Regions from separate parts of the Homo sapiens genome. Here region 2 is linked to region 1. The links come from fine-mapping of genetic effects on gene expression. A gene starts in region 1. The other region holds a variant in brackets. All regions are shown on one strand. Distances are from middle to middle.

Region 1 (2,930 bases):
CTTGTACCTACTACTGCTTTTGAGTCATGCTAACCTCATAATAATATTAGTTTTTAGGTAAATATGTTTGCAAATTACAGCTAGAAAATTTTGAGAACTTGTTGAAACAGAAATTTGCATTCAACCTTAATTTGGCTCATATTTTTAAAGAAAGATACATAGTTTCAAAAAAAAACTATACAGTTGTAACTTAATGTTCACACTTTGACAAGATGATTAGCCTTAAAATAAATGGTTTCCAATCCTTTAGTGAAGGAATAGAAACACTGGAAACTTCAAATAACATGCATTGGTTTTTGATTCTGAAATGGAGACATCATTTCTCTCAACTGTGGAGGAAACGTTCTAGTAACATGGGTACATATTGCAATTACTAAATAATAAGACTGAAATATACAAGAAAAAACAATTTCTGCAATGTTATATAGATAGTTCTAAAAAATGTGTAACTACTCAATCTACCAGTATGCATTCAGCAAGATGTTTCTGAATAAGTCTGACTTTTTTTTAAGATGAAAAAATGTATAATAAAACAGATATGTGATTGCTTAAAGAAATCTTAGGTGCACTAATATACAGGCTTATGACTTCCTGGAGTCTTCTGTATGAGTGATGGCCACAGAGTTTTAACTGATCCTATAATTTACATTTTCTATAGTGCTTGTGAGTTTGGTAGATCATCTTACAATTTCATTTGATAAATTCATTACAAAAATACCCCACTACCCTGACTTTATGGCTTTATACAAACTCAGCTTCAAAGGTACAAGAAAGTTAGATCTTCATGTTACCAATCAAAAAAGTTACTTACCTAGAACTTCACTGTAGAACTGATCCCACTTCTTCATGTCAAATATTTGGAACCAAAATTCAAAATAAAGCACATAGATCATATTTTTTACCCTCTCTATGAAAGTCATTTGGTCACTTAGTTCTGACATAACAACAGGCACATAGGAAGGAGGGAACAGAAGTCCTCCACTATGCTTTTCAATTGCGTAGCCAGGAGAGAAGCGGAGGCTGTAGACAAAGGGTATTTTAAGTAACTCGGCCAGCAGCTCACCAAAGGGGAAAACAGCATCTGCAAGAACAACATCAAATCTTGACTCCTGTAGTTTCTTCATAAGTTTCTTATTTGAAACTATATCCTTACAGAACTTTCTAAGTATGTCATTAAATGTCCACATGATTTCTTGTACTTGTGAAAAATATGACCAAAATGTGTCTTTTGGAAGTTCTGCCCATCTCTTAACCAGCTGCTTGATAATATCCTCAAACTCAGTTTTAGTTAAAGATACAGGATAAACTTCAAATTTAAGAGTAGATGGGCTGTTGGGATCGAAAGAAATGGAAGCTGAAGATGCCAATACAGTCACCTCATGACCTCTCTGGACAAGTTCATCCAGGATTGTCTTTATATTCATCCAGTGGCTGAATTCTGTGGGCCACACCAGCACCTTTCCACAACTCCCAGAGCTAAAGTAACAGCTCAGCTGTATCAGCAGAAGAGCTGAAGTCCATTTCATAGACATCCTGATGCAATGCAATGCTTGTTTTCCAGTTGCTGCTCCTTTCTGTCATTTCTCATGGTGACATCCAGTATAAATCAGTCAAGAAGTTAAAATGTAACTTTTACACTTCAAAGTAAATACATTATATTAACAGTCTGAGCATGTGGATGACAAAGAGACAAATAAAAGGTAGATGACCTGTTTACACAAGTGCGTTTAATGTTCTTTTTGGATTTTTTTTTTTTTGAGAGCTCACTGCAAGCTCCTCCTCCCAGGTTCACACCACTCTCCTGCCTCAGCCTCCTGAGTAGCTGGGACTACAGACAGGCACCTGCCACCGCACCCAGCTAATTTTTCTGTATTTTTAGTAGAGATGGGGTTTCACTGTATTCGGCAGGATGGTCTCGAACCCCTGACCTTGTGATCTGCCCTCCTTGGCCTCCCAAAGTGCTGGGATTACAGGCGTGAGCCACCGCACCCAGCCCTAGATTTTTAAGTGCTGTAATTCAGCTAATATCAATGATCTTGGATGGACTCATCACCTGACTCATGTAATATATTTCAGAATAGTGTGCATAAGAGTAGCAGTGAGAGGCTCATGTTCCTGCAGTCTCTTTGACACAGAACTAAAGATAAAATAGCTAAATGTGGTTCAAAAACTTTTGTAAATTTGTTGACGTATAATTCAGATATCATACAAATTATCAATTATTGTGTAAAATTTAATGTTTCATAGTATATTCACAGAATTGTGCTTCTACCGTAAGAGTCAATTTTAGAGAACTCTTATCTCCTAAAAATAAACCCTATAAGCTTTAGCCTTTTACTCCCTACCCCTTCTTTCTGCATTTGTCCTATCCTGGGCAACTGCTACTTGAATTTCTGTCTCTATAGATTTGCCTATTCTGGACATTTTTTAAATACATGGAATCACACAATATGTGATATTTTATGGCTGGCTTATTTTACTTAGCATAATATTTTAAAGGTTCATTTATGATATAGCATTTACGTGTTGATTCTTACAACCATCATGTATGATTTAGAGAGTTTCAAGATGAAACTATTCCTATAGACTTTGTTGAATTAATGAAGGACAAAGGGAGGGGAAAAAAAAAAAAAAAGTAAACCAAGCCTGTAGTACATTCAGTATTAATTATTACATTAGCTTGCTCTCTGACTCACTTCCTAATAGTTTTTTGGCTATTGTCTTAGAATTATGCAGACATTGTTACAAGATTAAAGTTCATCTTAACTGTTCTATAGATAATAACTTAAACATTTTGAAATGTGGTTTTCTCTTTGAGGTATTCCTTCAGGTCCAGCATACTGATGAAACTACTGACTCAGCTGGTCTGAGGGACCTCCCTGATGCCAGCTGCTCTCAAGGACCCCACAAGGAGCTGACTCACCAAAGAA
Region 2 (2,930 bases), 30 kb after region 1:
ATAGATTTGTTTGATTATAAGATTGCCACAAACCCTCAACTTATGAGAAAAAAAAACCCAAATATCTGCAAAGCATGATAAAACAAAGTGCAATAAAATAAGGTATGCTTATCCTATGAAGCATATTATAATGCATCATGTTTCTGGTGCAGGGTCATCAGAAAACCAGAGAACATAATTATCCCTCTATGGAGCAATCAGAAAAAGCTGGTGTGACAGATAACATACAGGGTAAGACAAAAGCTTTGGCAGGATCTAGGCAGAGTGTGGCTAACGGAAAGAATTCACAGTGAGTAGAATGAGAAAAGGTCATGGTATTTAGAAAGCATTCCAGTAAGTATGAATTTTAGATTAAATTGTGTGCCAGAGATTATTTTTAAAAATTGGTTGAAATTGGAGACCTTACATAGCTTTGTACAGTACATATGGGGTTTTATTTTAATTTACAGGAAAAATAACCAAGTATTTAAGAAAGCCAGTCAAAATGTCAAGTGTTTGTTTGTTTGTATGTTTTGTTTTAAGCAATCAACTCTTGTTGCCAAACACAGATTGACAAGTAAAGTCAAGAGCTCACATGTAGGAAAAATGATTAAAATGTATATTAGTAGACTAAGTATGAGACCATAAGGGCTGGGGCTTGTCTTGATAATAGTAAATGTGAAGAACAGAGATTAAATTTGTGAATACTGACTGCATCTGAGACTAGAAGAAATGCACAAAAGCAAAGGCACTGATGTGGTTTCTACATGAATGATCAAAACACAGATAATGATATTAGGTAAAGTATGATACCAAACATGAATGGCATGTTTGGAAAAAAAATATGAACCATTTGAAATTTGTGTTCCTTCAGAGCTTAATTTTTTAATAAGTATTTTCCATATAAATAATTATAAATTTTTGGAGACTCATTTTTTGGGCAACGTGATATAGTTTCAAGATATGGGTTAGACAATAGATTATCTACTCAGGTATCTATGCACCTGCCATTTTTTCACATTACACATTCAATGCACAATTTATAGCACTTACCTAATCCATTCGTTGATGAGACATGTAAGAGAGCAAAAAACATTATGATGTAGTCCCTGTGCTCAAGCAGCTCACATGTTTATATTTAAACAAGTTGACTAACATTTATGTTTATATTAAAGAAAGGGCTCCAGGCTGGGCGAGGTGGCTCACACCGTTAATCCCAGCACTTTGGGAGGCCAAGGCGGGTGGATCAAGAGGTCAGGAGATCCAGACCATCCTGGCTAACACGGTGAAACCCCATCTCTACTAAAAATACAAAAAATTAGCCAGGCTTGGTGGCCGGCGCCTGTAGTCCCAGCTACTCCGGAGTCTGAGGCAGGAGAATGGCGTGAACCCGGGAGGCGGAGCTTAGAGTGAGCTGAGATTGC[G/A]CCACTGCACTCCAGCCTGGACAACAGAGCCACAGAGCCAGACTGCGTTTCAAAAAAAAAAAAAAAAAAAAAAAAAAAAAAAAAAAAAAAAAGGCTCCAATAGAGATAGTCCATAGTGAAGAGTGTTTAAAGAATATTTAGTACAGAAAGCCAAACACATTTAATTCTTTCAGATAAAGCTATGCTTCAGCTGTGACATGTCTCTAAGTGCTTAGAAAGTCAAAGGAATGCTATTTAAAACCCAAACCAACTTTAATAGCTTCTCCTTGCTAAGAAGAGAACCATAAGCAAATTGGGAGATATAGTCATTGATGGAATTTTTGAGAGAGGGTGAAAGGATCAGAGATTTTATAGTTTCTGGTAATTTTTTTTTCTTTGTTGTTGTTTTTGTTGGATACAACAAATGTGTCAGAGTCTCAGGGTAATTTATTTAGCAGAACCTATTTGAGAGGAAGATTTATAATTAGCAGTTGGATAATTTTTTCTTTCATAAATAGGCAAGATTGTAATAGAGTTTCTTGTAGCAATTGAGACAATGAATGGCACTCCAGAGGAAAAGAAAAAAATGCAAAAAAATAGTAATAAAGGAAATTTCTTAGAAGAAACTGAATTAAAAACTCTTTGAAAGGAAATATTATTTTCAAGCTGTATACAAAGCTCAGGCATGCTAGGATTACTGTATGGCTGTATCACTTTTATGAAACACACAAATTGGATTAAAAAGTTTATTCATAATAGCAAAAGACAAATGTCCTGTGGGAAGATTATATTTGCAATATATATGCCAAATAAAGATGAATTTTGCTTATGCTAGAAACTTGACCCTATCCAGAGAGGCCAAGCAGATACTTATATGATCTGGTGGCAGAATATAATTTTTAAAAAATTTTTCTTGGGAGTAAGTTGCCAGTATGTAACAAATTTGAGAATGTACTGTTTCCCTGAAAGCTACTAGAAGACACAGGAGAAATGACCATAAAGAGGAAAACACTAGACCTAAAAATTGTACACTCAACTGAGCACAATGACAAAGAGATACTGATGACTAAGATAGGCACATAATGCCTGGATAGTAAAGTCTTCACATTAGAGATTGTACGTGGATAATTCTAAGAAAAATATTTCTGGAAAACAGAGAATCTTTTCAATAGGTATACATGCACTCCTTAAGGTAAAGTTAAGATTATGATACAGTATGATATAGTATTATGTAAGTAACAACATAATAAAAATTATATAAATAAAAAGCAAAACATGAAGTTGCAGAACAGAAAGGTAGACAAAATACAATATTTGACTCTCCAGTGAATGAATGTACAAAGACTATAGAATATAATTACTAATTCCAAAGTAGTGGTGGCTTACAGTAATTAAGAATGAACGCAAAGGTGATGAAAGTTTTAAGGGAAGTAAAACTTAGGTAAGGGAACATACCTCAATAAATAATGAATAAACTTAATAAATCTTAATAAATCTTAAATAAACTTAAGAAAGACCTGTGACAATATGCTATGTTGTGGAAAATGG

The links. PIP is the estimated chance that this variant, and not a neighbour inherited with it, causes the effect.
Region 2: its variant is the best candidate, but not a certain one, in a credible set for the expression of UGT2B4 in lung (TOPMed, PIP 0.86).

Annotation. Positions count from the first base shown.
Region 1 is chr4:69,494,330-69,497,259 of GRCh38, forward strand. It overlaps UGT2B4 (UDP glucuronosyltransferase family 2 member B4), which reads right to left and starts at 1,576. Exons shown (of 6, transcript NM_021139.3): 1 at 812-1,576. The coding sequence starts at 1,532.
Region 2 is chr4:69,524,655-69,527,584 of GRCh38, forward strand. It overlaps a transcript of UGT2B4 not described here. Among named protein-coding and RNA genes, the nearest start is that of UGT2B4, 30 kb to the left of the region's middle. The variant G/A (reference allele first, on the strand shown) is at 1,404.